Linked DNA regions of Homo sapiens: region 2 is linked to region 1. The links come from fine-mapping of genetic effects on gene expression. A gene starts in region 1. The other region holds a variant in brackets. All regions are shown on one strand. Distances are between the middles of the regions. Region 1 holds the start of TTLL13 (tubulin tyrosine ligase like 13). Region 2 overlaps SEMA4B (semaphorin 4B).

Region 1 (11,706 bases):
CAGAGGAACTAGTCAGTAGACACTATTCTAAGAGAGTATGTGGGTGTGAAATCTCATTTTCCTTTTAGCTCCCTTGAATGTTATACAGCAAAAGTAAAAGAAGTCTTGGGTTGGCTGGGCACGTTGGCTCACACCTTTAATCCTAGCACTTTGGGAAGCCGAGGCAGGCAAATCACTTGTCAGGAGTTCGAGACCAGCCTGGCCAACATGGTGAAACCCCATCTCTACTAAAAATACAAAAATTAGGCGTTGTGGCGGCCACCTGTAATCCCATCTACTTGGGAGGCTGAGGCAGGAGAATCACTTGAACCCAGGAGGCGGAGGTTGCAGTGAGCTGAGATTGCACGACTGTACTCCAGCCTGGGCGATAGTGCGAGACTCAGTCTCAAAATAAATAAATACATAAAGTCTTGGGTCCAGCTCTCAACAGAGATTATCACCGCCACCACTCCTTCATCAAACATCCTGAAGGAATGAGAGTCCCTGTTCACAGCGTAAGGGTGAAAGGGGGCTCACACAGGTGGGTTCTGGCTGCTGTCTGAGTGGGCTCACCCAGGAGGGGTTTTGATTTCTCTGCCTCCCAAACTGTGGGTCCTAGCCCTGGCTTAGGCCTTCAGGTCGTTGGCTCCCTATACCTAGGCCTGTATAAAGCCTTAGTTTCCAGTTTTCATTAGAGGTTTTACATCCCAAATGATGTTACAAAGTCTCCCTGTGATAAAGCAGAATATGTGTCCATAGCCCATTTTATAAGAAAAACAGTTTAGGCCAGGTGCGGTGGCTCACGCCTGTAATCCCAGCACTTTGGGAGGCTGAAGCAGGCAGATCACAAGGTCAGGAGTTCAAGACCAGCCTGGCCAACATGGTGAAACCCCGTCTCTACTAAAAACACAAAAATTAGCTGGGTGTGGGTGCACATCTATAGTCCCAGCTACTCAGGAGGCTGAGGCAGGAGAATCGCTTGGACCTGGGAGGCGGAGGTGGCAGTGAGCCGAGATCGCGCCACTGCACTCCAGCCTGGGCGGCAGAGAGAGACTTTGTCTCAAAAAAAAAAAAAAAGAAAAAAACAGTTTACCATTCTATCAGAAAATGTTGACCACCCTCATATTTTTGGTAAACTGCAGTAATTTTTCCTTAATACTTTTTGCAAGCTTTTGCATGCATAAGCTCCAGTATCACACTTAATTTTGCTTGCTTGCTCTCTGAAGGGAGTTCGGATGACCATTACAGCAAAGTGGATTTTGCGTTCAAAGTGATAAGCCAAATATCAGGATTTTCCCAGTTTCTCCGTAGGACTGATGTTTAGAGGAAAGCCTTCCCTGACTCAAATATGTTTCTCCATATAAAAAGGGGAAAGTAAAATGGGTTTTCTTTCTGGTGGTATTTCTCAGCTATTTATATGCTTTGTGAATCTTCAAGAAGAGCATTTGGACTGCAGCTTTTTCTACTGAGTAGGAAACACGTAGGGGCCCTTTGTACTCCGAGCCCTGGGCTTTGAGTATGGTAGGAAGTGCTGACCCAGCCCAGGACCTCCCCACGTTTTTGCTTAACTCTTCATGCAGAGGCCGGGCACGGTGGCACACTCCTGTAATCCCAGCACTTTGGGAGGCCGAGGCGGGCAGATCACCGGAGGTCAGGAATTCAAGACCAGCCTAACCAACATGGTGAAACCCAGTCTCTACAAAAATACAAAAATTAACCGGGCATGGTGGCATGCGCCTGTAATCCTAGCTACTCAGGAGGCTGAGGCGGAAGAATCGCTTCAACCCAGGAGGCAGAGGTTGCAGTGAGCCAAGATCGTGCCATTGCACTCCAGCCTGGGTGACAGAGCGAGACTCCATCTCAAAAAAAAAATACAAAACAAAAAACGATAATCAGAACTCTTCATGCAGGGCCTCATGTACTAAGAGGGTTTAGACTTGATCTAATGGGAAACCTTGAAGAATACTTAATGTGGGGTAACAGCTTTGCATTTGAGTAACAGCTTTGCATTTGAGGAAGAATACTTACGCTGTAATGGGGAGGATGGATGGAGTGAAGAATAGAATCAGGGAATCCAGTTAACAGACTGCTGAGGCCAGGTGTAGTGGCTCACGCCTGTAATCCCAGCAGCACTTTGGGAGACCCAAGCAGGTGGATCACCTGAGGTCAAGAGTTTGAGACCAGCCTGACCAACATGGTGAAACCCCATCTCTCTGAAAATACAAAAATTAGCCCCGTGTGGTGGCAGATGCCTGTAATCCCAGCTACTCAGGAGGCTGACGCAGGAGAATCACTTGAACCCGGGAGGCAGAGGGTGCAGTGACCCGAGATTGAGCCATTGCACTCCAGCCTGGGCAACAGAGTGAGACTCTGTCTCAAAAAAAAAAAAAAAAAAAAAAAAAAAAAAAAAAAAAAAAAAATTGCTGAATTGTGGCAATTCAGGCAAGAAATGGTGGTCGAGGTCCTAGAATAGTCCCTAGAACACTAAATTGTTTGTTGATGCAATGAGTGTCCTGGAAGTCAAGGGACTGCAGAACATTTCCAGGAGGACCATTTCTTTCTTTCCTTTTTTTTTTTTCTTTTGAGACGGAGTCTCACTGTGTCATCCAGGCTGGAGTGCAGTGGCACGATCTTGGCTCACTGCAACCTCTGCGTCCTGGATTCAAGCAATTCTCCTGCCTAGGCCTCCTGAATAGCTGAGACTACAGGCGTGCGCCACCATGCCCAGCTAATTTTTGTATTTTTAGTAGAGACAGGGTTTCACCATATTGGCCAGGCTGGTCTCGAACTCCTGACCTCGTGATCCACCTGCCTCAGCCTCCCAAAGTGCTGGGATTACAGCCATGAGTCACCACACTGGCCTTTTTTTTCTTTTCTTTTCTTTTTTCTTTTTTTTTTTTTTTTAAGAGAGAGAGTCTCGCTGTATTGCCCAGCCTGGTCTCAAACTCCTGGCCTCCAGTAATCCTCCTGCCTCAGCTTCCCAAGGTGCTGGGATTAGCGATGTAGGCTGCCACTCCTAGCCAGGAGGAGAGTTTCATATGAGAGTATCATATGCTGAGGAAAGATCAAGAAGTCTGTGAATCGGGCAGCCCATTTCTCCATCAGCCAGGAAGGACATTGGTGTTGAGGTTGACATACCTATCAAGGACAATAACTACCATGGCTTCCAGTGTTTTGATGAAACCTCAGATGCATGACCTCTGGTTTCACATTGCTGTATCCCTGTATAGAGGGTTGTAGCACTCTATACATTTGCTGTGGCTGAACCGGGAAAGAAGGCATATGCAGATTTCTAGAGAAATTATAATTCCATCAAAGATTTTTTTGTTTGCTTTTTTTTTTTGAGACAGAGACTCCCTCTGTCGCCCAGGCTGGAGTGCAGTGGCGCGATCTCCGTTCACTGCAAGCTCCGGATTCACACCATTCTCCTGCCTCAGCCTTCCAAGTAGCTGGGACTACAGGCGCCCGCCACCATGCCCAGCTAATTTTTATTTTTTTATTTTTTTATTTTTAGTAGAGAGGGGGTTTCACCGTGTTAGCCAGGATGGTCTTGATCTCGTGACCTGGTGATCCGCCCACCTTGGCCTCCCAAAGTGCTGGGATTACAGGCGTGAGCCATCACACCCGGCCAGATATTTGTTTTTTTAAATACGAGTTCTCACTCTGTCACCCAAGCTGAAGTGCAGTGGCATAATCATAGCTCACGGCATCCTCTTAACTCCCATGCTCAAGAGATCCTCACACCTCAGTCTTCCTAGTAGCTGGGACTACAGGGCCTGCCACCTAGCCTTGCTGATTCTATGAAAGATTTTGAGGAGATGAGGAAGGCTGGTATCTTTCAAAGTGCAAAGTGATTTTGGTATAAACAGTTTCTTTGGGTTGCATTACATAGAAGTTTATCACTAACCTATGTTCCTGAACTATGAAACATGAATATGTGGGCAAAGAAATAGCTTATCTTTATAGACAATTAACAACAACAAAAACAGTCTATGAATTAGAGAATGTCCATGCCTTTTTTAGGCCGAGTTCAGTGGTTCATGCCTGTAATCCCACCACTTTGGGAAGCCAAGGTGGGCAGGTCACTTGAGGTCAGGAGTTCAAGATCAGCCTGGCCAACACAGCAAAACCCCATCTCTACAAAAAATACAAAAATTAGCCAGGCATGGTGGTGCGCACCTGTAGCCCCAGCTACTTGGGACGCTGAAGTGGGAGGATTGCTTGAGCCTGGGAAGCTAAGTAAAGTTGCAGTGAGCTGCGATCACACCACTGCAATCCAGCCTGGGCTACAAAGCAAGACCCTGTCTCAAAAAAAAAAAAAAAAAAAAAAAAAAAAAAAAAAAAAAAAGTCCATGTCTTTTTAAAAGGATGGAAACATTTTAAGTGTTCTCTAGATTTAGCCACACAGTATAATTTTAGGGTGACAAGTTGAGCTGAGTTGGGTGGAGGTGGTGAGCAGAAATCAAAGTGGGTGGATGTCAGGAAGAGAAGGTGACAGTGAAGGAGCACTGTGATAAGGCGGTTTGGTTATTCCTTAATGGAGCTGTCTCAGTCCACCAGAGGCAAAGCCTTGAAAGGCACGTGGCCTTACCATGGCTGTCACTCTTGAATGCATAGGCTTTGCTAGCTAAACTTAGAGTTACTAAAGAATTGAGCCCGGCGTGGTGGCACGCTCCTGTAGTCACAGCTACTGGGGAGGCTGAGGCAGGAGGATTGCTTGAGCCCAGGAGGTCCAGGCTGCAGTGAGCTATGATGGTGCATTCCACTGCACTCCAGCCTGGGCGACACAGCAAGACCCCGTCTCAAAAAAAAAAAAAAAAAAAAAAAGGGAGAATTGAGGAGAGGCAAACAGCTATTTGTCCTCATTATATGCTTGGCCAAATTCCTTGGCCCGGGGTTTAGGGAAAGATGGGAGTGCGGCGAGAACTGGCTTCGAAGCGGGAGGGCTGCAAGTCCCATGATACACCGGAAGAATCTGGCGTCGAGGCCGGCCAGCTCCAAAGGGCAAACGCTGTCTCCCCCACCCAAGGTAGCCTCGGCCCGCGCCCAAGTGGGTGTGGCTGCGGGAAAGCCCCGCCCCCAGGACGCTTCTCCAATGGGAACTGCCCTCGTGTCCATGGCAACGGCGGCGGCCACGGGCTTGCTAGAGGAAGCGCTGCCCCGGCAGCCGCAGCCACGGCCACCGGGAGCTAGGAGTGAACCCCTGCGGGGGAGCAGCTTCCCCCTCGCGATCGTGGGGACAGCCAGTCCTGTGAAACGAGGAGGCGGTTCCGGACGCCCAGAAACGCCCAGGGAGACCTGGAGCCGGGGGAAGAGGGGACATGAGCGGCCAGCTGAGTCCATCCCCAGGCGGCTAGGGGCGGACCCAGCAGCCCCTCAGCTCTCCTCGTAACCACGGGTGGGCAGTCTCCACCGTCACAGCCCAAAGGGTCTTAGCCATCGGGTGCCTGTCCCTAGTGTGTACACGTGCAGAAAATGAGTCCTGGGAGAGGGAAAGGGCCAGCGTAGGGGGCTTTTGGTCTTCAGCTGTATTTTATTTTATTTATTTATTTATTTATTTATTTAGAGACAGACTCTTGCTCTGTCGCCCAGGCTGGAGTGCAGTGGTGTGATCTCGGCTCACTGCAACCTCCACCTCCCAGGTTCAAGTGATTCTCCTCCCTCAGCCTCCCGAGTAGCTGGGATTACAGGCAACGCACCAGCACACCCAGCTAATTTTTGTATTTTTAGGAGAGACGGGATTTCACCGTGCTAGCCAGGCTGCTCTCCAACTCCAGACCTCAAGTGATCTGCCCGCCTCAGCCTCCCAACGTGCTGGGCCGATTCAGCTGTATTTTAAAGCGAAGGTCCCCCCAGCACTCACAGCCATCCTCTTTCCCAATTAGGAACAAAAGAGCCATGGTCATGGCCCATACCATCTGTGTCCAACTCCTGAAGGCACCCCTGTGCGTTGTATGATCCAGTGTGAACCTGGATGATTGGGGCTTGTCATCAGGGAATCCACATCTCACTGGTGTCTTCCACCCCCATGCACCTCCACCTACCTGGACACATCCCATTCCTCAGTGAAACAGTTTTGTCCTGAAGGGGCAGCAACTTTCCCTTATAACAGCATGAAGGTCGTTCTGGTGGATTCCTTCAGGCCTTCTAGGGCCTGAGGGAGGTCTGAGGTCTGATATACACTTCATTCCCACCCCGCAACCCCTCAGAATCTGAGAGAATGGAGCCGAGTACCTGTAGGACCATGGAATCAGAGGAAGACTATGTTGAGGAAAAGGAATCTGAGAAGTGTGTTAAAGAGGGAGTTACCAACCCCTCTAACTCTTCACAGCAGGCTCTCTTAAAAGCTGACTATAAGGCATTAAAAAATGGGGTTCCCTCACCCATTATGGCCACAAAAATTCCGAAGAAAGTCATAGCCCCAGTTGACACAGGCGACTTAGAAGCTGGGAGGAGGAAGAGAAGGCGGAAACGCAGGTAACTATTCCCTAGATCCCCTCAACTGCCCAGCTCCAGGGAGTCACCCATTGGCCTCCCTTCAACATCTGGAGGAGCTGGGATCTCAGATCTTCCCTTTAGCCTACAAAAGAGGACAGGAAATGCTGGAGTGTCATTAACCCTTTGATACAACAGAAACAAAATTCAGAACCATTTAGGCTGGCTCATTTTGGAATCCCAGCCTGTTTATGTCATCCTGGTCTGTCTTTTTTTTTTTTTTTTTGAGACAGAGTCTCGCTCTGTCGCCCAGGCTGGAGTACAGTGGCGTGATCTCGGCTCACGGCAAGCTCCGCCTCCCGGGTTCAGGCCATTCTCCTGCCTCAGCCTCCCGAGTAGCTGGGACTACAGGCACCTGCCACCACGCATGGCAAATTTTTTTTTTTTTTTTTGTATTTTTAGTAGAGACAGGGTTTCATTGTGTTAGCCAGGATGGTCTCTATCTCCTGACCTTGTGATCCACCCGCCTCGGCCTCCCAAAGTGCTGGGATTACAGGCATGAGCCACCGCGCCCAGCCCATCCTGGTCTGTCTTTTAAGTGGCTTCTAGAGAAAAGGAATTGTGTTGTGAATTTGTTGGATGTCTTTTCATCTGAGTACCTGTCCTTCCCTCCCACTCTTCCTGATTTATGCTATTCCTCCATTCCAGATCACTGGCCATCAACCTGACCAACTGCAAGTATGAGAGTGGTAAGCACCCAGCCCGTCGCTCACACTGTGGTGCATAACATGGTGCCTACAGCTGCTGTTCTTCCTCTGGAATGGACCCCCGATCAGGCTTCCAGCCCCTGGGGCCTGGCGGGCTTGCCTCTAACCTGTACTGAGCTTCCTAGGTGTCCTCTGCCTCAGACACTGGAAGCTGAGACATTGCCATTCCAGGTAGTCTCAGTGTTAGGGAGGGTATCCTCACAGTAAACAAGAAAAAAAAAAAAAAAAGTCCAAGAGCCACTACTGCCCCACCCTTCCCAGATTTTATTTATTTATTTTTGAGACAGAGTCTCGCTTTGTCATCCAGGCTGGAGTGCAGTATTGCAATCATAGCTTAATGCAGCCTTGAACTCCCGAGCTCAAGCCGTCTTCCTATCTGAGCTTCCCAGTAGCTGGGACTACAGGCCTGCACCACTATGCTCACCTAATTCTTTTTTTTTTTTTGAGACCGAGTTTTGCTCTTGTTGCCCAGGCTGGAATGCAATGGCGTGATCTCGACTCACTGCAACCTCCACCACCCAGGTTCAAGCGATTCTCCTGCCTCAGCCTCCCAAATAGCTGGGATTACAGGCATGTGCCACCACATCTGGCTAATTTTGTACTTTTAGTAGACAGAGTTTCTCCATGTTGGCCAGGCTGGTCTTGAACTCCTGACCTCAGGTGATCCACCCACCTCAGCCTCCCAAAGTGCTGGGATTACAGGCATGAGCCACCATGCCCAGCCTGCCCAGCTAATTCTTAAATGTTTTGTAGAGACAGAGTCTTGCTATGTTGCCCAGGCTGGTCTTGAACTCCTGGGCTCAAGTGATCCTCCCACTTCAGCTTCTCAAAGGCCTAGGATAACAGGCAGGAGCCACCATGCCAGACCCTTCCCAGATTTTACCAGAGATGAGACAAGCTTAAAACAGTTTTTTCAAGGAAGATTTGAAGGGACTTCAACGATTAAGAAAAAAAACAATCTCCAGCTAGGTCCTTCCCCTAATATTCCCTCTGGCATCTTTATAAGGAACCACACAAGTATGGAGTGTGAAGTGCCAGTGTGACCCCACCTATAGGCAGCTCTCCAAGCCATAAACATCCCTGATTGAGAGATAAGACTGACAGGAGCAGCTGGGCACGGTGGCTCATGCCTGTAATCCCAACACTTTGGGAGGCCAAGGCAGGCGAATCTCCTGAGGTCAGGAGTTCGAGACCAGACTGGCCAACATGGTAAAACCCCGTCTCTACTAAAAATACAAAAATTACCCAGGTGTGGTGGTGGGCGCCTGTAGTCCCAGCTATTGGGGACGCTGAGGCACGAGAATCTCTTGAACCTGGGAGGCGGAGGTTGCAGTGAGCCAAGACCGTGCCACTGCACTCCAGCACAAGGGCGAAACTCCGTCTCTAAAAAACAAACAAACAAACAAACAAAAAACCAGGTTCTAGTTTTCTCTGCTAGGTATTTTGGAAGGGCCCTGACAGCCCCTAAGAACTTGAAATTGTCATGTGGTAACTAAAGTACAGGGCTGAGGCAAGAACTACCTCCCTCTTCAACCTGCCCTCGGGTCAGGTGTATACCTTACCTGACCCAGCTACACAGTTCCAGGGCTTGTTGCTGGTGTCCATGCTGGCACTACTGATCTCCCTGTCTCTGCAGTGCGTCGGGCAGCCCAAATGTGTGGCCTGAAGGAGGTGGGGGAGGATGAAGAGTGGACTCTGTACTGGACAGACTGCGCTGTCTCACTGGAACGAGTCATGGACATGAAGAGGTTTCAGGTACCCATCTCCTGACCTGAGAGCCGACAGGGGCTAGGGCCCCAGAATGACTATTCCCACCTCCTTGCCCAGGCACCCAAGACTGCTACTCTTTGTGGCTGTCCCCTTGTGCAGACAAGAAAGACCACCCCCAGGGTCTTCTTTTCCAATGGAAAGATCTCCTCTTGGAGATTGTGGGTTTCTGGAATTACCCAAAGGAAGTTTCTGGTGGGCACATCCTATCTCATGATTTGCACTTTGCTTGGTGGCATCTGTGTGTAGCTGGCCCTCTCCAGGGTGGGTGAGCACATCTTAGGGAGAATACTGGGAGGCAGCTTCAGAGCTAACAGCAGGGCCAGTTGAATGATCCAGCCTTCTAAGCAACTTAGTTTAGCATTCCACATCCATTAGGAGACTGCGGGGTCCTGCCTGGTGGCAAGAAATTCAGGAATGATCCACCGGGGTCCACAAGAATAGAACTGCCTTGTGACATTTTTATTATCCTCTAATTGGGCGTTTGTGGTGATCAGCAATAAAATAATTTAAAAGAGTCTGCAGGCTTATTCTTTGGGGAAGCCAGGCAGGAAGTTGAGGAAATTAAAACCTGTCCCACAACTAGTCTTGGGAGAGGTGCCCAAGAGAGAAAGCAAGTGCTAGAAGTTCTCAAGAAGCTCCAGAGGAGGTTGGGTGTGGTGGCTCACACCTGTAATCCCACCACTTTGGGAGGCCAAGGCAGGTGGATCAATTCAGGTCAGGAGTTCACTTGAACCCAGGAGGTGGAGGTTGCAGTGAGCAGAGATCATGCCACTACACTCCAGCCTGTGTGACAGAGTGAGACCCTGTTTTTTTTTTTTTTAAAAAAAAAAGGCTGGGCACAGTGGCTCACGCCTGTAATCCCAACTCTTTGGGAGGCCGAGGCGGGCGGATCATGAGGTCAGGAGTTCAAGACCAGCCTGACCAACAGGGTAAAACCCCATCTCTACTAAAAATACAAAAATTAACCAGGCATGGTGGCGCACACTTGTAATCCCAGCTATTTAGGAGGCTGAGGCAGGAGAATCACTTGAACCCAGGAGGCGGAGGTTGCAGTGAGCCAAGATTGTGTCATTGCACTCCAGCCTGGGTGACAGAGTGAGACTCCATCTAAAAAAAAAAAAAAAAAAAGGACGCTCCAAAGGAGGGGCATTTGTAAAATGAGGAATGCAGGCTGGGCACGGTGGACGGTGGCTCTCGTGCCTGAAATCCCTTTGGGAAGCCAAGGTGGGCAGATTGCTTGAACTCAGGACTTTGAGACCAGCCTGGGCAACAGGCAAAACCCCATCTCTACCAAAAATACAAAAATAAAAAAATATTAGCCAGGCGTAGTGGTGCATGCTTTAGTCCCAGCCACTTGGGAGGCTGAGGCAGGAGGATCTCTTGAGCCTGGGAGGCAGAGGCCGCAGTGAGCTGAGATCACACCACTGCACTCCAGCCTGGGCGACAGAGGGAGACCCTGTCTCAGGGAAGGGGGAAAAAAAAAGGATAAGGATAACAATAATCAGCAGCATTTACTGAGGGCTTACTGTACAACAGACTCCGTGTTAAGTGCTTTTATAGTATTACCCCATTAAATCCTCAAGAACAGCCCTGAGCAGCAGATATCCCTTGGTTAGGACATGGAGGGTCAGAAATACTAAGTTCATACAGTGAGTGCGGCCAGTGATGGGGAAACCCAGTGGAGAGCACTTAGCATACTCTTTGTGGCTGTCCCCCTGTGCAGACAGGAAAGACCATCCCCAGGGTATTCTTTTCCAACGGAAAGATTCTCCTCCTGGGTCTCTGGAATTACCTGAAGGAAGTGTCTGGTGGGTACATCCTATCTCATTATTTGTTCTTTACTTGGTGGCATCCCGGATGCTGCCACCCATCCAGCAGGACAGAGCAGCCAGGGGTTTCTGGCAGGCACCAGGGTGATGCCATGCCCTCAGTGGGTGCCATGGCATCACATTCCTTGGGGCTGGTTCTTAGTTTCCTTTTATCTTTTGTGTCTTTTGGGGAATGCTTTCGTCTCATTGTCTGCTTTGTGCTATCATGCATTAGTTATTGTTAGAGGACTAGGCCTGGTGGTCTGAGGGGTGTTAGAAGGTGGACTGTGGAAGCCACAGTCTTGGCTAGTTACATTCCTTCTCACTGCCCCTCATTTGCTGAGCTCAGTGTGGATGTGTGTGTTGGGTAGGAGTCACAGAGGGTTTTCTCACCTGCCTTAAGGAACCTTCCTATGTTTGCCCTTGGGGTCCTTGGTGCAGTGCTTACCTCCACTGTGACTTCTCCCTTAACCTTCCCAATCCTCCTCCACTGCTTCCTGGGATGCCCAGGTGCTAGGAAATGCCACTTACTCTGGGGGCTCATACTAACTGGCTGTGTTTCAGAAAATCAACCACTTCCCTGGCATGACAGAAATCTGCCGCAAAGATCTGCTGGCTCGGAACCTCAACCGCATGTACAAACTCTATCCCTCTGAGTACAACATCTTCCCCCGCACCTGGTGCCTCCCCGCAGAGTGAGTGGGTCTGGCTTCCCATGCTGAGATACCAGGGGGAGGAAAAGGGTCGCTCTCAGAGCTCTGGTCTTGTGACCTAGGAATGTCTCAGAGGGATGGAAGTGGAATGAGAAAGTTTCAGCTGGTCAAAGAAAAGAGGGTCTGAGACTGAGTGCTCCAGGAAGAGCATGGACTAGATAGCAGGAAGAGCTCCATGCGGCCCCGGGAAAGCCTTGATGCACAGAAACCTTTTGACCAGGCCCTCTCTGCACA
Region 2 (11,706 bases), 41 kb before region 1:
TGGAGCAAAAGACCCCTTCTGCTATGTTCTTGGGGCTAGGTCTGCCCGGAGTGGCCCATTTTTCCAGTCCCACCAAAGCCCTGGAATAGTGTAGTGGCACCTAGCTACCTGAACTTGTGAGCACGTATCTATAGTCGACTGAGTTGCCACTATACCCTGGAGTGCCCCCTCTCTGGGCTTCCTCCTGGCCCTCATACCCACCTCCTACTCTTACCTACGTGCAGGTCCTAGGGCTGGCTGGGAGTCCGAGAGGGGAATGCCCTGGTAACTGAACAGGCTCACCCTTGAGTGTGGCCTAAGGCGGTTTCCTGCCTCATCCCAGGGGGCTCATTAGATGTTCCTGGCAGTGTGCCCATCCTGGGCAGGCTCGTGGTGACCATGGGACGCCGGGCCCAGGGCCCTAGTGCCCTCCCTTGCATGCATCTTAGGAGAAAGAGTCATGGAACTGGATATTACACACCCCTCTTTCCTCCTGCCACTCACTCCTCTACTGAATTCCCACCCATGCCCCGTAAGGACCCAGATGCCTAGGGACAGTGGGGCTATGTCTGTGGTTTAAAACAAAATCCCTTGAAGTGGAGCGTCCAGCTTGCCCTGCATCTGGGGTCCTTCATAGGGAACCCTAATTATTGTTGATGAACAGCACATTCCTGGGGTGCTTAAGATGCAGGGAGCCGATTTGTGGCCTCGCCCAGTGGCCAGTAGGGAGAGGAGGATGAGGGGACAGCCACTGGGGGCTCCACAGTCAGCTGGAAATCTCTGAAAGGAACACTTCAAAGAAGTGTGTGGAATTTGGGTTCTCTTGCGTTGGAACTACCATGCAGAGCTCCAGGACCAAAGCCTCGGTCAGGAGCAGGAGTGGTGCTGAGTAGAAACAATGGCGCCCAGTGCTTCCCAGCCTGGCCACGTGGGGAGAAACAAAACACGCCTCCTCTCATGGCCCTCCAAAGTCTTTTTGGGCCACCTTATTTGGACACTTAATGGGAGTTATTATTATTGTTATTTTGAGATGGAGTTTCGCTCTGTCTCCCAGGCTGGAGTACAGTGATGCCATCTCCGCTCACTGCAGCCTCCACCTCCCAAGTTCAAGTGATTCTCCTGCCTCAGCCTCTCGAGCAGCTGAGACTACAGGTGCCCGCCACCATGCTTAGCTAATTTTTGTATTTTTGTAGAGATGGGATTTCACCATGTTGTCCAGGCTGGTCTCGAACTTCTGACCTTAGGTGATCTGCCCATCTTGGCCTCCCAAAGTGCTGGGATTACAGGCATGAGCCACCACATCCGGCCTTAAAGGGAGTTATTAATTCCCTCCTGCCCCAGAAGTGCCGGGCGGGAAAGCTCTGGACGCAGTATTTCTGAAGCAGATTGGACAGAAATCTGCAGGCCTGCAAACTGCAGTCAACAAAACGCCATTGAGCAGAGAGAATGGAGCATTTGGCACAAATCAGCTGCTTGCCCTCTGGCCCTGGAGGAGGCAGCCAGGGTCAAGGCTGCCCTGGGAAGCCCTGATGCTGGTCGCTTGTTGAGCCCTCAGCCCGGTTACTGGCTTCCCTCCTTGACATGGTCTCAACTGGACATGAGCCTTTGTCCCCAGCTCTGTCCTATGGGCCAGCATCTCTTTGGCTCTGCAGAGGTGAGTGGAAGGCGCTCTAACTGCGGATGCTCAGAGCCTGGCTTTGTAAAGTAGCTTGCCACCCTTACTAACTGCACAACCTTGGGCAAGCTCCTGGCCTTCTCCAGGCCCATTTTCACATTAGCAAGAGAGGAATAATGGCCATCTTCACAGTGTTCTGAGAGGATTACATGAAATAATGTATGTAAAGTGTTTGGCATGGTGCCTGGCACATGCTGCATCCGTAGTAAAAAGGTAGCTTCTGCTCTGGTGTGCTAGAAACCCCCTGCCAGCCTTGCTTGGTGAGGTTATTTGCATCCATTTTTGTGCACACTGGTGGTATGCAGGCCCTCTGCTAGGTGCCAAGCCTTGTCAGGCTTAGTGCCTGCCCTGGTAGAAAAGACAAAGCAAGGCCCCCAGGAGCTGATTGGAGGTCATTACCAGGGGTCCTGCTTAATTATAGCCCAGTTATTAAGTGCTCCTGATTCAGCCTTTTCAAAGTCCTCCTTTGCCTGAAGAACCTCCTCTGCATGGGGCTGGACCATGCCTCTCCCTGCCTGCCCTTCACTGGTTCTGCTCTGCCTTCAGCACAACCCACATCCAGCTGGTGTTGAAATACCTCTGTGCCAACCCAGGAGAGCGCTAAACTTGCACAACTTTTGGGGCATATCTGGATATACCAGCATGTTCATCCTCTAGGCAAGAGACAGAGGGTGGCACGGGGCCTGGAGAAAAGGCTAGACTCGGGTCATGTCATCAATCACTCCTTCCTTTATCTTCTTAGAGCCTGTTGCCTCTCACTCCACCCCCATGGGTGCTCAGGCTGGCGCAGGACTCAGGGGGCCTCTGATGTGGCCCTCCCTGGGGATCGGGGCAACAGGAACAACACAACGCGAGACTCCTGTGGTCGAGGCCTGCCTTCCCTCAGATTAGCTTTTTGGGAAGTCTGCTCCCTTGGACTGCATTCTCCATGCTTTTCCCCAGCTGGTTTCCCTGCCCCTCCTCTTCACATTCTGACCTCCCTGTGCTGGATGTGGGACAGCTATCCTGTCTGTAAGATAAGATAATTAAAAGCCTGGTGGCTCTTTCCCTGCTGCCACCAAGTCATGCAGAGACGGAGGCTCAGGCTCAGTTGCGTTCAAGATTCGGCTTCACCCGTAACCCACTGCCATGGCCGAGGAAGGCATTGCTGCTGGAGGGGTAATGGACATTAATGCTGCTTTACAAGAGCTGTTGAAGACAGCCCTCATCCACGATGGCCTAGCACATGGAATTCGCAAAGCTACCAAAGCCTTAGACAAGCGCCAAGCCCATCTTTGTGTGCTTGCATCCAACGGTGATGAGACTGTGTATGTCAAGTTGGTGGAAGCCCTTTGTGCTGAGCACCAAATCAACCTAATTAAGGTTGATGACAAAAGAAACTGGGGGAATGGGTAGGTCTCTGTCAAATTGACAGAGAGGGGAAACCCCGTAAAGTGGTTGGTTGCAGTTGTATAGTAGTTAAGGACTATGGCAAGGAGTCTCAGGCCAAGCATGTCATCAGAGAGAACTTCTAATGCAAGAAATGAAGAAAATATCTTTGGCTCACAAAAAAAACAAAAAAAGCCTGGTGCCCACAGCGGCTCTATACTTATTAGCTCACCATCGACCCTCTTCTGGGCACTGAATACTGGAACACTAAGGGGTGGCTCCTGCCCTGTGGCAGAGATGGTCACAGAAGAGTAGAGTGGCTACAGAGTGATACACAGAGGTGGAGTGTTCTGTCCAGCTGCTAGAGTTCTGCCTCCCAGGCCTGTGATCTGACTTGTTGTGCATGGAAGCTCTATTCTGCACTCCTGGATCCATCTGGAAGCCCATCCTGTAGTCTTAACAGGCTTCCGAGAGGTGGGGGGCCTGTGGCGAGGGGGTTTCAGTGGGGATGGTAGGTAGGAGACAGAAGCCATCATTTTACCATACTCCTAAAGAGGAGCCAAATTAGCCAACTCGTGTCCTCTTTTTTGGCATCTTTTGGCCCATCCTCTAGGAAGGGGGCCAACTGGAAGAGCAAATAAAAGCGGCCATTGCGGTGCACTCCCTGTGTGCCAGGCACTGCTGTTGGATGTGGAAGTGCATTGCTTTATCTCATGCAGATGAGGAAACCAAAGCTCAGTGAAGCTAACTCATTATCAAGGTCATGCAGCTATAGAAGAGTTTGGGACCAAGCCTTGGGCCACAGTTCTCGATTCAGCAACCACATTCTTTCCATTAGAACAGCTGCCTCCTGCTTCACCTGTGAATCGTACAAAAGCAGCAAGATGACCCGGCTCAGCCCTTGAATAATTGCAGGTTATATTTTTCCATCTGTTAAAGAAATCTGTTGAGGTCAGTCTCTGGACGGGGCAGGGGATCCAGCCGAGGCCCCTGGTTGCATGGCCATAGTTGGGAAGAGGGCAGAGCTGGCAGACATGTGGCACACAGGAGACTGAGGCACACATCTCAGACAGAAGTTTGCAAACTGAAGGGTAGTGGGCCACAGCCAGCCTGGAGATACATTTTGTTTGACTTCCAAGTTCTTTAGAAAAATTTTAATTAGGCCAGGTGCGGTGGCTCACGCCTATAATCCCAGCACTTTGGGAGGCCGAGGCGGGTGGACCACTTGAGGTCAGGAGTTTCGAGACCAGCCTGGCCAACGTGGTGAAACCCCATCTCTACTAAAAATAGAAAAATTAACTGGGCATGGTGGCAGGCACCTGTAATCCCAGCTACTCAGGAGGCTAAGGGAGGAGAATCACTTGAACCTGGGAGACAGGGGTTGCAGTGAGCCGAGATCATGCCATTGCACTCCAGCCTGGAAGACAAGAGCAAAACTCCATCTCAAAAAAAAAAAAAGAAAGAAAAATTTTAATTAGTTGCTGATATTTAAAACTTAGGAAATTTTACATAAAAATCTAGGTTTCCAGCTTTTCTGAAGGTCTGGTAAGGTTGGACCCCCATTCCGTGTAGCAGCACGTGTCTGGGGCCTAAGTCTTGCGTGTGAAAAAGGGCTAGAGTAAAAGTAGAAGGCAAGAAGCAAGGGGAGGAGTAGGGAGCATGGGGAGAACCCATCTTGATTATTGATGGTCACTGACCCCTAATCTTTGCAGAGCTTTGCACTGCCACGTACTGTGTTTATTTAGTCTTCTCAGCAATCCTGCAAGGCAGCCCTCTCAGGACTGAGAATTTGTTCGGGGTTGCACAGTGGGTCAGTGATCAAGTGAGGATTCACACACATGTCTTGTGCCCCTTCCAGTCCGTGAAGCTTGTTTCTTGTCTCCCTACCATACTTTCAGCTGTCATACTTCCACCTGTCATACTTAATTCTTTTTTTCTTTTTCTTTTTTTTTTTTGAGATGGGGTCTCACTCTGTCACCCAGGCTGCAGTGGTGAGATCTTGGCTCACTGCAACCTCCACCTCCCAGGCTTAAGCGATCTTCCCACCTCAGCCTCCTGAGTAGCTGGGACCTCAGGCATATGCCACCATGCCCAGCTAATTTTTGCATTCTTGGTAGAGACAGGGTTTCATCATGTTGCCCAGGCTGGTCTCGAGCTCCTGTCAGCTGTTATACTTCTATGTGTTCAGTGCTTTTGGGAGGGGTCAGAGTGGTAGCAGTGCTTCTCAGACACACTTTTGTGAGTGTGATGCTTCAGGACCTCCACGTTGCCCCATTTTTATCTGGGGCCCCTCTCTGGGCTGGAGCACTCTCACTGGGACTGTGTCATTCATTTGTTTAGTCAACAAACATTTATGGAACAACTGCTGGGAGCTCACCTGACCAGTTGATACAAATATGAATAAGACATGGTCTTGATCTTGAAGATGCTGTCAGCTTGGTGGAAAAGAAGAGCACAAAGACCGGGCGCGGTGGCTCACACCTGTAATCCCAACACTTTGGGAGGCCGAGGCAGGCGGATCAGCTGAGGTCAGGAGTTCAAGACCAGCCTGGCCAACATGGTGAAACCCCATCT[C/T]TACTAAAAAAATATATATATATATACAAAAATTAGCCGGGCATGATGGCGGGTGCCTGTAATTCCGGCTACTCAGGAGGCTGAGGCTGAGGCGGAAGAATCGCTTGAACCCAAGGTTCAAGGTTGCAGTGAGCCAAGATCATGCCATTGCACTCTAGCCTGGGCGACAGAGCAAGACTGTCTTAAAAAAAAAAGAGAGAAGAGCGCAGAAAGACCCTCCTCATCATCATCAAACATCAAACATTGCCATCATCCGACAGTGTCACCAGTGCACTACAAGACGTGTGAACAGGAAATGATGGGCATACGGAGAAGGGCCCTTGCCCAGCCGGGGATCCAGGAAGGCCTCCTGGAGGAGGTGGAACTGAGCCAAGTCTCAAAGGATGAGTGTGAGTTAGTCAAAAGGAAAGCCTTCTGGGTGGAGGGGACTTCCTGAACAGACCGGAGATGAGAGAATTGGGCCCTTGAGTTGCAGTTCCATGTCACTTGGTCGAACCAAGAGGTGGGTGGGTGGCAAGCACTAGCAAGTTAGGAGCTTGGACGACGGGGTGCTATTGAAGTTTTTAGGCAGAACAGTGACGGCTCCCAGAGAGCCCTCTGGCTGCAGCATAGCAGCTGGCCTGGAGATGGGAGGCTGGTTGGGAGGCTGCTGTGATGGTGGCCTAGGTGAGAGAGGATGGTGCCAGGCTCAGGACTGCGGTAGTGGGGATGGTGAGGGGAATGGATTTGGAAAATATTGAGAGAAAATTGGCAGGATTTGATTATAGACTGGACTTCTGAGGAAGGAGGATGGTGAGACACCCAGGTGAGTGGTGCCACACACAAACACAAAATGCCAAGCCAGGGAGTGGGACTGGAAGGGGGCGGTGAGGTGGTGGGAGGCACCCACAGAGGCCCTTCTGCACTGTGGGGTCTGGTGTGTTGGAGGAAGATCTGCACTTGGATGAGGAGATTTGGGGATCGCCAGCATCCGCGTCATTGAAGTGATGAGCATGGACGTGTGACCCAGGGGCTTGAACGGAGTTAAGAAGAGCAGGGCCAGGAGCAGACAGACCTAGAGAGCAAGAACATTCAGGAGCAAAGCCTGAGGCAGGAGGGTGGTCATCAACACAGATGCTGCAGCCAGGTGGCCCAGGGTCGGGCGGCATCCCCACCACTCCTCCCGGGGATGACTTGCACCTGAAACAGAGGTAATAAAACACAGCAGCCTTGTGAGGATGACATGACTTAATCCGTTTAAAGGGCTGAGAAAGTGCTCACATACTTTAGCTCTTTGAGGGCTAGAGGCCCAGAAGGCATGTGAGGGAGACACGGAGTGATGCTTGAGACTGGGGGCACAGGTACCTAGAGGACGGGGTGGCGTGGCCCGTGTCTGGGGTCTGTCAGCGAGGCGATCCCTGGGCTCTTGGCAGGGCTGGCACTGCTGAACGTGGGGCTGGCTGAGGCCCAACTTCTGTGGAGGAGTGAGTGGAAGGTGAGAGGCAGAGATGGCATGGGGTGGCTGTTCTCTTTGGGAGCTTGTCTAAGGCAGGTGGAGGGAGGCACAAAAGTTTCTAGAATGGACATTGGAACAAAAACTGCTTTCTGACAGGTAGAGTTGGTGACATAGGATTTGGTCTCTGAGGAGATGGGGTGGGAAGTTGAGGTTGTTTATGCCTGATGACCCCGATTTCCTTGGAAGAAGTGGAGACATCTATAAAAGCAGGAAGGCAGACCCAGGGCAGAGGCCCTAGAAGCCGGGTTGTTAGAGGGGAGCCAGCCCCTGAGCAGAGGGACTGAGCGTGTCCCTGTGTAGACCTGTGAGCAGGCAGGCGGCAGGCAGGCTCCTAAGGTGACGGCAGTGGTCTGTGCACCCATGGCACAGGCCCTAGGTCGGGACTGGGACTGCCTGGGGGTTCTGGCAGAGGCTCTTCGTCTGCCCACTTGGGGCTGTAGCAATGGCTTTCCGGGGCATGCCCCAGGAGCACAGATGCTGTGAGGCCAGGTTCCCTTGCCCTCGTTGCCACTTTCTTGGTGACCTCAGTCCATGGGAGGACCCTTGGCACACAATACCCCCAACCTCTGCCCAGAGTCCCTGGTCAGGGACTCGACTCTGGCACTGGGCTGGTGTCAGCAGAATGTGGCCCCCTCCTCCATGCTCCATGAGGAAGAAGTGGCTGCCCTGCCCAACACGGGCCGTGTGGAGGAAGGAAGTGCACCCAGGTTGGCAGTGTGTCCCAGTTTCCTGCTGACTGTGGCCCCGTCAGCACTCCTGCCCTGGAGGTGGGGCTGCTGCTGGGGTAAGTGGGTCCAAGGTTCTGGTGACTTATCGTGACATCCCTGGGGACGAAGGGCTACAACAGCCTTTCAGGAGGCTCTCTGGGGACTTGTCCCGCCCAGACCCCTCTCTGAGAGTGGGGGAGGCCACTGGCTGCCTCCTTGCATTGGAGGCCCCTTCCCCACCGACTCCACAGGGAAGCTGGTGTTTTCTGGCCTGATCCTGCTGGGGCCTGTAGAGGGTGGGATGTTAGGGCCAGGTCAGCGTCTTGCTGCCGTGCCCGGAGCCACAGTAGAGAGAAAGGTGGGGTGGGGTTCTGAGTCACAGCGCTGCTGCAGCTAGCTGGCTGGCCTGGGGTGGGGACTAACCAGGGTGGGGATGGTGCTGAGCCCTATTCCTGTCTCACCCCAGAGAGCTCCAGGCTTCCGGCTGAGTCACAGGGAAGGAGGACCCTTACATGGGGCTGAGGGCTGAGTATTCCCACATCACTTCCTACTCAGAACCCCACTTCCTACTCAGAACCCCACTTCCTGGGGTGGGGAGTGGGGACCCTGCAGGTGACTCTTATGTGCCCATTCCATGTGCCGTCTCCCTCCAGGGAGGGACAGGGCAGCCCCAGACCAGCCCCGGTCTGCCTTTTTGAAGGATGATCTGCCTAGTGGGATGCACTGGCCTTGGTGAAGCCCCTGGCTGAAGCCTGTCGGGGTGGAGGGAGAGGGTTCACCCTGAATGGGAAAACCGGCCGCAGCCTCGGCGTGCCCTGCTTTCTTCATACTGGACTAACCCACTGGATAGATGGATTTAGAGGATGTCCGAGCAGCACAGGCAGCCCAGGAGAGCGAGCGAGACACTCTTTGACACAAGGGAGAGCATAAAAGCTTAAGACTGACCCCAAGGTGCGCCAGCCCCTCGCAGGAAGTAAAGTGCAGAAACACCTCCACCCCTGCACAAAGAGCACCTAGGAGTGAGTGCGCAAGCGTGGACAAGCCCTGCGGTACCGTGTACACACACACACACACACACACACCACAGGCAAGCTCAGGCAGGGTCCTTCACAGACGTCTGCAGTCACTCTGGAGGTGACCCAAGCACCTGGGCCCTTAGACAGTAACACCACTCACACCGAGCACAGACCAGCTCGCGCCCACAACACGAGCCTGTGACACGCAAGTCTCTGTTTCTGAGCTGATGCCGTCTGGCTTTGGCCATGAGACCCTCGTGTGACCAGGTGCGTGCCTAAGTTAGAATCGCCCAGGCTAAGTTCGTGAACCCCCTGGATGAGGGAGGCCCGACTCCCGCAAGGAGCCCTGCCCTTCTGCCAGCTCTCACCGGGCCGGATTTTCCTGCGGGGCTTTTGGATTTTGTTTTTGAGTCACTCATTGAGTGTTGGTCGCGTGCCAGACACCATGCCACACTGCAAACCATGTGCAACGTTGTTTTAGCAAAGCTGTCTCAGTAAATGTGGGTTATTATGTATATTATTATTTACATACGTAATCTCATTTTTTCTAATAACAACCCCATGAGGCAAAGTGTTATTATTTTCCCCATTTTACAGATAAGGAAAACGGGGCTTTGAGAGGTTAAGTGGCGTGTCCTGGTGGCACACAGCCAGTAAGTGGTAGAGGATGGCTTTGAACCCAGGTCTCTAACTCTACTCTGCACACCATGGCTTTCAGTCTGACTCTCAGGGCAGAGAGATGAGGCAAGTGTGGAAGGGAAGCCCCAGAAGGGGAAAGCCTGGTTAAGGGGCCCTTCACCCCCCTCTCCAAGGCACATTCCCCTTTCTGTCCCTTTGTCGTTTCATTCACTCTACTCCCAGCATGGCTGGAGGGCTTGTGGCTGGCTCGTTTGGAGGCCTGGGCTGAACCAGGGACTGGCTGGTCTATAGGTTTCCCCTCCAGCCGGCTGCACTCTGTAGTGCCCGAGGCAGGTTTCCACCCCTTCTCCCAGGCGTAAGTGGGATTGAGTTGCCACCTGGGACTGAGGCTTATCTCTGACTCTTGGCATTTCTTTGTCTGGACAGATTCCAAGGGCGGTCTGCTGCCCAGACTTACAGGGCCTGCCCAGGTGGAAACGCTCTTTTGCAGGTAGATAAGCACGGGCAACCAGCTTATCTGAACCAGCCCTTGCTTCCAGAGAACTATGGAAAAATCCAAAAGATAAGAAGGGACCGCAGTGTCTGTCTTGGTCTCACTCCTCTTGAGACTCCTGTGATCTTTATATGTCTCATTCCTCCCGTGACATGTATGAGAAACTGCAGCTCATTGAGACGATGTCTCTGCTGCCTGACAGAAGGGCCTACTTGAGGGCCGGGCTCGGTGGCTCAGCCACCTGACCCCCGTCATCCTGTTAACTAGTGTCACCCCCACCCGAGGGCTTCCTTCCCCATTTGCTGCCAGGTGTAAAGCTGAGCTTCGGCTGGGCGCGGTGGCTCAGGCCTATAATCCCAGCACTTTGGGAGGCTGAGGCAGGCGGATCACCTGAAGTCAGGAGTACGAGAGACCAGCCTGGCCAACATGATGAAACCCTGACTTTACTGAAAATACAAAAATTAGCTGGGCATGGTGGCAGGCACCTGTAATCCCAGCTTCTTGGGAGGCTGAGGCAGGAGAATCGCTTGAACCTGAGAGGTGTAGGTTGCACCATTGCACTCCAGCCTGGACAACAAGAGAGAAACTCCGTCTCAAAAAAAAAAAAAAAAAAGGGCTGAGCTGCTGGGCGTGGTGGCTCACGCCTGTAATCCCAGCACTTTGGGAGGCCGAGGCGGGTGGATCACATGAGGTCAGGAGTTCAAGACCAGCCTGACCAACATGGAGAAACCCCGTCTCTACTAAAAATACTTTGCCGGGCGTGGTGACATATGCCTGTAATCCCAGCTACTCAGGAGGCTGAGGCAGGAGAATCGCTTGAACCTGGGAGGCGGAGGTTGCGGTGAGCCAAGATTGTGCTATTGCACTCCAGCCTGGGCAACAACAGCAAAACACCATCTCAAAAAAAAAAAAAAAAAAAAAGGCTGAGCTTCCCCCAAATGGCTGATATGTGTTCCTCCTTATGGACATTGAGGATGGAGTAGCTTCATTTCCCATTTTTCTTTGGCCACCAGGAGGCCCAGCACTAAAGGCTCAGCCCTTCTCTACCAGCTGTGCGAAGACTCATTGACCTACTCGTGAATTTTTACTTCCTTGCTGATGGAGATGTTTTTCTTCAGATTTGGGTTTTCTCTGCTCCTGATTTTAATGTTTATATTTCACTACTTTCTTTTCTTCATGTCTCCCCACCCTTTATGGAACCAGGCTGGGGGTATGTAAAAACACTCCACAGGTAAACACACATGAAGTCATCTTCACAGCTGCTTGATTGGGCGTGTTGCACTTTTTGCTTCCTCAGCTTCGTGAGACTGTTTGTGTGGTCATAACCCACTGGTCCGCTACAACGTGCCTGAGGGTGGTCAGGGTGCTGCTCTTTGCTTGTTTTTGTGTTCTCATCAGCTGCTTAGAATTTTAAAAATAATTTCTCTCCAAACCCTTTAGTTACCCAAAGCATAAACAGTACCCTGGTGGGTAAGTGTGTGTGTGTTTCTTTTTTTTTTTCTTTGATTTATATATTTCACATTATATAAGGATAACCTGCTTATTAGAGAATCTAAAAATGATAACAAGTAAAAAAGAAAAGAAAGCTACCTGTAATTCTACCAGGGAGCCCATGTTTTAGTGTTTTGTGATACATCCTTCTGGATTTTTTTCCTATGCTTATATTTTTCCCACAAAAAATAGAATTTGACCATACATACTAAATATAACCTGAATTTTCACTTCATGGTAGATAATTCGTGTCTTTCCTTGTTGTTATT

The links.
Region 2: its variant is fine-mapped to the expression of TTLL13 in whole blood (TOPMed, PIP above 0.99).

What each region holds. Positions count from the first base shown.
Region 1 is chr15:90,244,432-90,256,137 of GRCh38, forward strand. It overlaps TTLL13 (tubulin tyrosine ligase like 13), which reads left to right and starts at 5,125. Exons shown (of 15, transcript NM_001396017.1): 1 at 5,125-5,377; 2 at 6,189-6,456; 3 at 7,123-7,163; 4 at 8,818-8,936; 5 at 11,324-11,454. The coding sequence starts at 6,200. It overlaps GDPGP1 (GDP-D-glucose phosphorylase 1), which reads left to right. Exons shown (of 4, transcript NM_001013657.3): 4 at 1-1,380. It also overlaps a transcript of CIB1 not described here.
Region 2 is chr15:90,203,788-90,215,493 of GRCh38, forward strand. The region is part of intron 1 of SEMA4B (semaphorin 4B); the gene reads left to right. It also overlaps the pseudogene RPS12P26. Among named protein-coding and RNA genes, the nearest start is that of SEMA4B, 8.3 kb to the left of the region's middle. RefSeq lists enhancers at 5,883-5,932, 7,468-8,667 and silencers at 8,731-8,905, 10,850-11,144. The variant C/T (reference allele first, on the strand shown) is at 5,597.